2 separate regions of the Homo sapiens genome follow, and region 2 is linked to region 1. The links come from fine-mapping of genetic effects on gene expression. A gene starts in region 1. The other region holds a variant in brackets. All regions are shown on one strand. Distances are from middle to middle.

The links. PIP is the estimated chance that this variant, and not a neighbour inherited with it, causes the effect.
Region 2: its variant is the best candidate, but not a certain one, in a credible set for the expression of TRADD in whole blood (TOPMed, PIP 0.73).

What each region holds. Positions count from the first base shown.
Region 1 is chr16:67,157,178-67,162,539 of GRCh38, reverse strand. TRADD (TNFRSF1A associated via death domain) reads left to right here and starts at 2,631. Exons shown (of 5, transcript NM_003789.4): 1 at 2,631-2,702. FBXL8 (F-box and leucine rich repeat protein 8) reads right to left here and starts at 2,583. Exons shown (of 3, transcript NM_018378.3): 1 at 2,484-2,583; 2 at 603-805. The coding sequence starts at 754. RefSeq lists enhancers at 1-69, 143-655, 3,203-3,462 and silencers at 1,353-1,442, 2,463-2,602.
Region 2 is chr16:67,385,976-67,391,337 of GRCh38, reverse strand. It overlaps TPPP3 (tubulin polymerization promoting protein family member 3), which reads left to right. Exons shown (of 4, transcript NM_015964.4): 2 at 221-414; 3 at 706-859; 4 at 976-1,529. The coding sequence starts at 227. The coding sequence ends at 1,164. It also overlaps the pseudogene RNU1-123P. Among named protein-coding and RNA genes, the nearest start is that of TPPP3, 4.8 kb to the left of the region's middle. The variant T/C (reference allele first, on the strand shown) is at 2,948.

The sequences.
Region 1 (5,362 bases):
TGCCTCTGCCATTCCCTAGCTGAGTGACCCGTGGGAAGTGATTAAGTCTCTTTGCCTCAGTTTCCTATCTGGGCAATGGAGGTAATGATAATACCTATCTACCACACAAGGTTTTCATAAGGATTAAATTAGTTAATATATGTAAGGCACTTAAAAACAATGGTTGGTATATACTAGGCAGTCAATACGTCAGCAATTATTATTATTATTTTGAGATAAACTGTTACTCTGTCGCCAAGCTGGAGTGCAGTGGTGCCATCTCGGCTCACTGCAACCTTTGCCTCCCGGGTTCAAGCGATTCTTGTGCCTCAGCCTCCCGAGTAGCTAGAATTATAGGCGCCCACCACCATGCCCGGCTAGTTTTTGTATTTTAGTAGAGACGGGGTTTCAGCATGGTGGCCAGGCTGGTCTCAAACTCCTGACCTCAGGTGATCCACCCGCCTCGGCCTGCCAAAGTGCTGGGATTACAGGCATGAGCCACCACGCCCGGCCAGCAATTATTTTTTAATATGGGGGAGTCAACCTGAATATCTACCTAGCCCACGACTCCACGGAGAAGGTGAGTGGGCGGTGGGGAGAGGAGTGTGGAGGAGCAGGCTCACCTGATTTTTGTGTCGTGCCACACGGCGCTGCAGGTAGCAGCGGCGGCCCAGGCCCTGCAGACCCTGGCGGCGGCAGCACGGTCTCTCAGGGACAGGTGGCGGAAGATGAGTGCCAGCACCTCCTCTGGCAGTCCCTCTCCAGGCTCGGCCATGGCCCAGATCCGGCTGGGGTGGGAGGATCCGCCACTCCCAATAGCTCCGGCCTGGAGAGAGACGGACGTCTCTGAGGTCGGGAAGGCGCAAAGTGTTGCAGGAAGACCGAGCTTAGGTGTACAAATGCTTGTGGCCTGAGGAACTGAGGGCCTCTCAGACAGCGTGGGGCATCAGATAACCCCGAAACTTGTTCACAAAGCAGATTTCACCGCCTCACCTACTAAATCAGGCTCTCCGGAAAGGGTAAGGCCCAGGAATCTGCATTTCAACAAGCCCCTGTGACTCCACAGGTTCCACGTTGAGAACTCCCCTCCCACTTTTTTTTTTTTTTTTCTTTTTTTTTGAGACAGGGTCTCGCTCTTTACCCAGGCTGGAGTGCAGTGGCGCAATCACAACTCACTGCACCCTCAGTCTCCCGGGCTCAAGCAATCCTCCCACCTCAGCCTCCCGAGTAGCTGGGACTACAGGGGCACGCCACCACGCCTGGCTAATTTTTGTAATTTTGTTGCAGAGACGAGGTCTCGCTTTGTTGCCCAGACTGACCTCGAACTCCTAGGCTCAAGCGATCGGCCCGCCTGGGCCTCCCAAAGTGCTGGGATTACGGGCATGAGCCACCGCGCCCGGCCTGAGAAACCCCATCTTAACCCCGCCGGTTAGTAGAAAGTGACTACAGGGTTAATAAGGCGGGAGCGTTAATGTAGGCTTTTCTTTGTCAGGGACCATGAGCCAATCAGGAAGCGAGGCGTGGGCGGGGCAAAGCTGGATCCACCCCTGGAGGGGAGGCTCCTTCCCCGCCTCCGCCTCGCCGGGGAGATGTCCCGGGTGCTTCCTAAGACAGCCCCACTGGATGAAAAAAAACTTGGGTCTCTGGGACCTGACGGTTCTGGGGCCTGAGGGGCTCAAGATTTAAGTTCCGACCCCTGAGCAGCCCTGGCTCCCGCTGAGCAATTTGGGTTCGGCTGGAACTCCGCAGACCCACCCTGGAGCGCAGCCTTTAGAGGGGGATGGGTTACTGGAAAGTGTGCGTCCTCTTTGAAGTTGCCAATCCTGTTTGTTTTTGTTTTGTTTTGTTTTGAGACGGAATCTAGCTGTGTCGCCCAGGCTGGAGTGCAGTGGCGAGATCTCGGCTCACTGCAAACTCCGCCTCGCGGGTTCAAGCGATTCTTCTGCCTCAGCCTCCCGAGTAGCTGGGACTCCAGGCGCGCGCCACCTCGCCGGGCTAATTTTTGTATTTTTAGTAGAGACGGGGTTTCACCATATTGGCCAGGCTGGTCTCAAACTCCTGACCTCAGGTGATCCACCTGCCTCGGCCTTCCAAAGTGCTGGGATTACAGGCGTGAGCCACCGCGCCCGGCCGCCAATCTTGTTTTAAGGTTCTTAAAGGTTTGTGTACACAAGGCTTCACACTACTCGCCAGTTAATGTTCCCATATCTTCCGGGCTAACAGTTTCTCCCGGAATTTGTGCCACGTGTTTCCTGGGGCTTCAGATACGTTCGGCCGGGCTTGTACCTGGGACCCATGGGCACCCCGTTTTGAGTGCCCACTGGTAGCAGCGATCTTGAAGCCGGATCCCCAGGGGTACCAGAAAATTCTGGTCTCCAGGGGGCGCCCCCTTGATTTACCGAAGTCTGGCAGCTGTAGCTCTTACGAGCCCCCCGCCTCGTAAGAATCGCAAACCCCCAAAGTCGGGTCTTCCTGCCGTCTAACCTTGGGCGCTGGTGTCTTACCTGCTCGGCGGACCAGATGGGCTTTGCCCGGGGCAGGGGACTGGCAGCAGAGGACAGCGGACGGGAAGCAGCCACCGGGAGCCCGCGGGGCGGGACGCGCGGGCGGACGGGGCGGCTCGGGCTAGGGCACCGCCCCAGCGCCTCCGCGCACACCCGGAAGCGGCGGAGTAGAGCGGAGCCTGGCGGGCGTGGGAACCCAGGCCCCGCCGAGGCGGCCAGGTTAGTGCAGCAGGTGGGTGGGTGGGCTCCCCGGTGCGGGCGGGAGAGGAGGTGGATCTTGGCTCCGAAGCGTGGGCGCGGCGCAGATGTCACCGGCGGCTGCTCCAGCCAGCTGGTGGCGGCGGTCTACTGAGCTGTTCGAACACCGTGGGAGGCGGGGGACGGTACGGAATTTGGCCCCCGCAGGCTCCTCGTCCCTGCCAGCACTTTCGAGGTGCAGTAGGGCCCTGCAGGAGAGAGGGTGGGGGAGAAGGGGCTGGTTCTGAATACTTTCCTTGAGCGGAGACCCCCTTGCCCACCCCAGCCGATCGCACGTGCGAAACCCCAGCTTGAGGGTGGGCTAGTGGGAGCCTGGGAAGCTCCCCTCAAGCGCTCGGGAGCTGCGTAGCTGAGTAGGGGGTGTGCCCGGCGGGTCGCAAGGAGTCACAGGCTTTCAGTTCTGGGCCACGCCCACAGGCTGTCTCTGTCCACCCAGCCAGAGGTGGGGCTGCCCCCGGGACTGTTAGGTGTTCAGGGGGCACCGTGCGTGGCTCGTCCCTGGAAACAGGCGCAGAAGTTGTTAGGTCGGTACCTAAGCGCCCCACAGTCTCCGGCCACCAAACTTTCTCAGGACCCAGCCTGGAAGCCTCAGCCCCGCCCAAAAAGGGACGACTCCTGGTGGGTGGGGCGCGGGGCTTCCCAAGGAGGGGCTTCCGTGAAAGAACACGTAAGAAGAGCTGCCAGTCGGCGGATGCGAAACTAGGGCCCTGGCCTCTTTACCCTGTTAACTCGACCTCCAGCCTGGTTCACCTTCCCCATCTTCTAGTACTAGTGAGTGTGAGAAAGCATCCCCAGTCTCCAGGTTCCCAGTACTCCCCACCTCCCCCTCGACCCCCACAGACCTGATGGGCAGACAATGGTCCTGTTCGGTCCCCACTTCCACCCCTTGGGGTGGGACCATAACCAAGTCAAGCACTCTCAAGTCAAGGGGCCAGAAAGACATGAAAGAGGGAATGTTTCCAGGGGAAGTTCCCACTCTCTCCTACTCCCCAGGCCACTTTCGAAGGACTCCCCCCTTATCTCACCTCCGTGGCTGGCTCCCTATTATGGACCCACTTGTCACCTGCAGAGTTTCCTGTTTTTTCTTGTTTTGCTTTTAAAGAAAACAAATTTATTTTGCTCTTTTAATACAAAGAAAATATGTCTACTTCACATAAAGCAGAAAATATTGCTAAATACAAAGAAAATAAAAATCACCCACAATCCTTCCCCACCCCCACCTACCTTCCTTCATCCTGCCCAGAGATAAACAAAATGCAAACTTCCTGTTACTATCCAGACTGTGGTTTGGCGTAAGTACACAAGTATTAATGTTTTCTATGAAAAGATTAGAAGGCTGGGTGTGGTGCCTCACACCTGTAACCCAGCACTTTGGGAAGCTGAGGTGGGCAGATCGCTTGAGCCCAGGAGTTTGAGACCAGCCTGGGCAACATGGTGAAACTCCATCTCTACTAAAAATACAAAAACTAGCCAGGCATGGCGGCGTGTGCCTAAAGTCCCAGCTACTTGAAAGGTTGAGGTGAGAGGGTTGCTTGAGCTGGGAAGGTCAAGGCTGCAGTGAGCTGCGATAGTGCCACTGCACTCCAGCCTGGGTGACAGAGCAAGACCCTGTCTCAAAAACAAGACAATTGAAAAAACAAAGGTCGAGAGTAGTGCCTTACTCCTGTAATCGCAGCACTTTGGGAGGCCAGGGCAGGAGGACAGCTTCCTGTTCCTCATGTAAACAGATGGCAGCTGGGCCACCCCATCTGTCCTGCCCCATAGCTAACACTCAACACTCCTCTTAGCCCACCATATATAAACCCTGATGAGAGTACAGGAGTGTGACTGATGGGGCAGGAGGTAGGGCCTTGAGCCCATGATTATAGGAAAAGGGTGGGTAGGAAAAGGGTGAGGTGGGGAGAAAGAGGAGGCAGTTTTCTACTTGCTGTCTCACGGGGTAGTAACTGGGAGACCATTGAGCTGTAGGTCAGTGCAGTGGTTCCTTGGCTGGGAATTTTGCCCCCGCTGGTCCAGAGCTAGGTTTTTGTCAGAAGATGGAGGAAGGAGATACTATACTAGCACCAAGGGGCCCTGGCTTTTTCTGGACAGGGAAGGAATAGAGCAATTTGTGTTGGAAATGACTGGAGCCGAACTCCAAGGGCTTTATAACAAAAAGGAATTATTTAGCTCACATAACTGAAAAGTCCAGTGTGCAATGGCTTCAGGGACGGCTGGATCCAGGGGCCTAGTATGCTTAGGAATGCACTTCTCCATCTCTTGACTCTTTCTTTCTGTGTCAGCTTCATTCCCAGCCAGGCTCTTCCCAAGCAGTGCTAAAGGAGAGCTACCTTTTCCTTCCAGTTCAGCCCCAAGGGAAGGGAAAGTAGTGCCTCTTTCCTATTGGCTCAACCAGAGTCGCAGCGTTGATTCTCATGGGTCCAACTTAAGTCCTATACCCCGCCCTGAACTAATCACTGCAGAAATGTGAATGGAATATGCAGATTGGCCAGGTCTGGTACACAAGCCCGACCTGGAACTAGGGAGTGGGACACAGGCACATGGATTGAGAAGAGGGAGGAGGGAAGTCCCCAAAGGTAAGTCAGGCTTGGGGAGAGAATCTGGGTAGATGCAAACTACAG
Region 2 (5,362 bases), 230 kb before region 1:
GCTGGCATTAGTGACAAGACCGTGCCTCCCGGGGCTCTTCCTTGGGGCTCTGTGGCCCAGGGCGACAGTGACGGGCCCCTCTCCCCAGGCAGCTCCAGCACCAACTCTGTAGCAGAACCTGCCCAGGTCTTGCAGGTTTGAGGTAGAGGCTGGGATGTTCTGGGCTTGGGGGAGGGGAAGGGCAGATTGGCTGGGAGATGACCCAGGTGGGTCTCTATAGGGTGGCATGGCAGCGAGCACAGACATGGCTGGGCTGGAGGAGAGCTTCCGCAAGTTTGCCATCCATGGTGACCCCAAGGCCAGTGGGCAAGAGATGAATGGCAAGAACTGGGCCAAGCTGTGCAAGGACTGCAAGGTGGCTGACGGAAAGTCCGTGACAGGGACCGATGTGGACATCGTCTTCTCCAAAGTCAAGTGAGCCCTAAGCAGCCCCTGCTTCTCATGTTCCCAGGAGGTGGGGAACTGGGGGGCTGGAACCAGGGAGGACATCAAGAAGGGGTCAGGGAAACACCATGATCACGAAGGTCGTTCTTCCAGGGCAAACCTTATATCTATTGCCCTCCAGAGTTGCTGACCCCTGCGACTTCCCCAAACGTGGGAAAGAAACGCAATTGCATAATTTGTGGTGGCAGCAAATGTGTTTGAGCTTTCCCCTGGGGGAGAAAAAAGAAAGGGGAACCCTCATGGTGCCCACATGCCTGTCAGGGGGAAGTCTGCTCGGGTCATCAACTATGAGGAGTTCAAGAAGGCCCTGGAAGAGCTGGCGACCAAGAGATTCAAGGGGAAGAGCAAGGAGGAGGCCTTCGATGCCATCTGCCAGCTGGTGGCAGGCAAAGAGCCAGCCAATGTGGGCGTCACTGTAAGTGCCCTGCTGGTCTCGGGTGGCCACGGAATGGGGTGTGGGGAATCGTGGCTGTGGGTGGGAAGGGCTGGGCTCCCTCATCAGGTGCCCCTGGGGAAACTCTGTCCAAACAGAAAGCAAAAACAGGGGGTGCTGTAGACCGGCTGACGGACACCAGCAGATACACGGGCTCCCACAAGGAGCGCTTCGATGAGAGCGGCAAGGGCAAGGGCATTGCGGGACGGCAGGACATCCTGGACGACAGTGGCTACGTGAGCGCCTACAAGAATGCAGGCACCTACGATGCCAAGGTGAAGAAGTGAGGCTTGGGAAGACCGCCCTGCCAAGTGCGGCTGCCCCTGCCAGAGGCTCAGGCCTGGGTCTAAGGGGCACGTGGAGCAAGAGATCCTGGTCCCCTCCCTGCTGGACCTGCCACCCAGAGCTTCCTGCCTAGTCCCACTGGGCTGGCCCACCAGGCCTCTGACCCAGGCTGCTCTGCGGCCCCTTCCTCCTCCTCTTCCTGCTCCAACTTCTGTCCACCTGGGGACAGTCTGTGCCTGTAGCCTCATGACCCCAACCCAGCCCCAGGCATGGCTAACCCCTGACTGCTTGCCTCATATTTAAGCTGCTGCTCTGGCCAAGTGCCTAATTTTAACCCAGACCTCAATAAAGACACCTTTTGTACCAATATGGCCTGGTTGACGATGATGGGGGAATGACATTCACACTCCAGTGACCCCCTCAGTGTCATCACCCCGCTGCATGCCACACACTGCTAATCACTCCCCTTCCCCTGGCAGCCTTGCCCAGAAAAAGGCACTCATGAGTCCCCTTCTGTTAGCACAGAGCCATTCTGTCTGAGGAGACTCCTGGGGAAGTCCAAAGCCTTTTAGCTGGGCCTGACGGGAGTCCTGACATCAAAGCTTGCCTTCCTGTGACCAGTGCCTTGGGTTTGGAGAGTTGGCCCCCTCTCCACTTTCACAGCAGTAGGAGGGATGAAACAGCCGACTCAGCCTGGGCCAAGCATTGGCAGAGGCCCCAGAGCCAGGCATCAGCTTTCAGTCTGCGAACAGGGGCTACCGAGGCAAGTCATTTTGGGTTCTGGCTCAGAATACAGAAAACGCAGGGCCAGGCAGAACCTTAGAGAGTAGCTCATCCAGGCCGGGCGCGGTGGCTCACGCCTGTAATCCCAGCACTTTGGGAGGCTGAGGCGGGTGGATCATGAGGTCAGGAGTTCAAGACCAGCCTGACCAACATAGTGATACCCCGTCTCGATTAAAAATACAAAAATTGGCTGGGCATGGTGTTGCGTGCCTGTAGTCCCTCCCAGCTACTCAGGAGACTGAGGCAGGAGAATCGCTTGAATCCAGGAGTTGGAGGTTGCTGTGAGCCGAGATCACGCCACTGCACTCCAGTGTGGGCAACAGACACTTTGTCTCAAAAAAAAAAAAAAAAAAAAAAAAAAAAAAAGAGAGTAGCTCATCTGACTCCGTAATTTTATAGCTGAGGAAACATCCAGAGAGGTGGAGGGGCTTCTGCAGACTAGAGGCCAGACCATGCCTCTTGCCTCCCAGGCCAGGCTCTTTCTAGCAAGCCCCAGCATTGACTTCCAAAACTGGGACTGGCTGACTGGTGATAGGGCTTGGCACCCAACACTAGCCTGTGGTGGGAGCAGGGCATCCCTCAGTAAAGGGGCCTCCTCTTTGATGTCCTCCCATCTGTTCCACATCCCTAGTGGGGGAAGGGAGCCTCTCTGGTCCTGAGGATGCCTGGGCGTTTCCAGATCATCTCACTGAGGCTCTGGGTGTTTTGACAGAGCTATTCCCAAGCCAAGGCTTTCGGGCTACCTCTCCTTCCTTCCTTGCTGTGAAAATGGGGCTGGATGGGACTTTAGGGCCTACCCAGGAGAGGGTGGCTCCCAAAGGGGCTAGAAAAGGTATAAAAGGGCCAGTTCCCAAATGCCTGCTTTCCTGACCCAGATCACAAGACAAAGCAGCACCATTGTTTATCCTCTCATCCCACAGTCTATTGGGGGATGCTCCTGCCCAGGTGGCCCCACATCCCTTAAGCCCAGCTTTCCTTGGGGACAGGGGTGTAGCGGAATAG[T/C]ATGGCTTGAGACAGGGATGTCAGGCGGGAATCGGCAGGCAGCAGGTGGGCACCTGGCCACAGCAGAGCCTTGCCTCACAGCGCGGCTCCTCCTGACCCAGCTGACCGCGTCTCCTTGAGTGGCCCAGGGAAGAGCTTCAGGGACCTTCAGGCAGATCCTCCCACCAGCAAATGTTAAGAGGTAGAATGCAAGGCGTTTAATGAAAAAAAAAAAATGCAGAGGAACAATTCCTCTAGCCCTGGAAAATTCGTTTGAATTGCAAGCTTAAAATGAACATAATAGGAGTGAAACCCAAATCCTCTGGCTTTCACCAGAACAGCCTCACAGGGAAACAAATTTAACTGTGTTCCAAATTGGGCCAGGCTCCCACTATTCCACTGCAGGTGACAGTACCATCCAATGGTAGAGGGCCCAGCGGCTTCTCCATTCCTGTGACTGGCAGTATGGCTTGGAAGAACACAGAGAGAATGGCTGAGCCCCAAAACCCCACGTCATAGGAGTAAAGCCGCCTCTTCTCGAAATGCCGTTATGAAGCCCGAGGGAATTTAAGGCCCACTCAGGGCTGGGAGGACCCTAAGACCAGACGGGTCTAGCAGAATCTGGCACATGACAGCCATTGCCCAGCAATGCCACTGCCCCTCCCCTAACAGCCTCCTTGTGGTTGAAAGCTTTGGATACCCTTGCTAGCAAAATCAGGTTAGACAAAGGAGAGGTTAGGATCAGAGGGACAGAGCCTTTAAAACCTGCTCTGTATGGCTGGGAGAACTCCCAACCTAAGAGTGGCTCTGCCCCTCCCTCTGGACATAGAACCTCCCTGAGGACCAGTCTCCATCCCAGACCTGTCCTGCTTTCTGGTGGTAGTGCCAGGCCTAGGGTGTGGGATTCTGCTCCACGTGTTTTCTGCTTGTTTAAAGGGTCCTCCGCTTTCCATGTTGAGTCCAGTTTGCCCTGAGCTCTTTGGCTCTCTCCTTAACATCGCAACCCCTACCCGTGCCCTGTAGAACAAGTGCCATACAGGGAAAAATCAGAAACAGATGACTTCCCCAGGAGTGGCCAGCAAACCTAGCAGGTGCCTGGCCTGGGGCAGGGTCGGTCACTTTCAATGACAATGGCAAATGGGGTGGAGGGTGGCACACACTGGGCCAGGCTCTTTGTTCCCCTTAGGAGGTGTCCTGAGTGGATTCTGGGGCTAGCACCATCAGGTGTTCATGGAGGAGGCAGGAAGGGCTGGGTTGGAGGAAAGCAGTGCATTATTCCTCCCTGCCCCCTGGTGTGTCCATTAGGTTGGCCTGTGCACTGGGCTGAGACCCTGAAATATAACAACTCAGGGATGCAAGGCCACTGGCTGATGCTCCCCTACCTGGGAGACAAAGACAGGCCCAGGAAAGAGGCAGCGGGGGTGCAGGGAGGCTGCTCTTACTGACATTTCCACAGAGCACAAGCTCGCTCTAGCTCCCTCAGAGCCTTGCAGCTCAAAGAAACTTCTGGCTCCTCTGTACAAGCTGCTTTTGGGAAGCCACTTAAAATCCAGAAGTCTGTGGATTTATAACTTAGAAACTTGTGACTGTCATGTCTTATTAGTATGGTGGTGGCTCTCCTTCCCTGCACAGCATGGAATCAGGGGTACAAGTAAATTATCTAATCCTTCCACCTGTCTCTCTCTCTGATGTGGCCCTGAAGGTGAAGAGAAGAACCATGTGGCATTAGGTTGAAAATCCTTCACTTTCTACACACTCTCTGGCAACATTAGCACGCTGGGAGGCCACTGAAGCAGAAACATACCTAGAACCACTTACATCATCTTTCCCCATTGATTTTTCAAATGCCCAATCAGGATTAAAAGTACAGGGCACCTGCATGTAAACTGGATGCTGAGCCCAAAGCTAACATATTCAGAAGCAGCATATCTAGTCCGGCCTGCCTCTGCCTCTTCTTTGGGCTGCCTAGCTCCGCTTTGGTCCCCCGCTACTTCACACATGATCAACCCATTCTCTTCTTCTCTCCTCCTGCTTCTTCTTCTTTCTTCTTCTTTTTTTTTTTTTTGGAGACAGGGTTTTGCTCTGTTGCCCAGGCTGGAGTGCAGTGGTGCAATCATAGCTCACTGCAGCCTTGAACTCTTGGGCTCAAGTGATCCTCATGCCTCAACCTCCCTAGTAATTGGGCCCACAGGCATGCACCACTGCGCCTTAACTTTTAAAATTTTTTTGTAGAGACGGAGTCTCACTATGTTGCCCAGGCTGGTCTCAAGCAATCCTCCCGCCTCGATCTCCCTAAGTACTGGGATTACAGGTGTGAGCCCCTATGCCTGGTCCTGAGAAAGCTTTTCAAACACAGTCTGTCACTCCTCTGCCTTCCCAATCTAAAATCTTCAAAGAGTGGTGCAACCTTGCTCCTGCTTACCTCCTCTCAGCCCC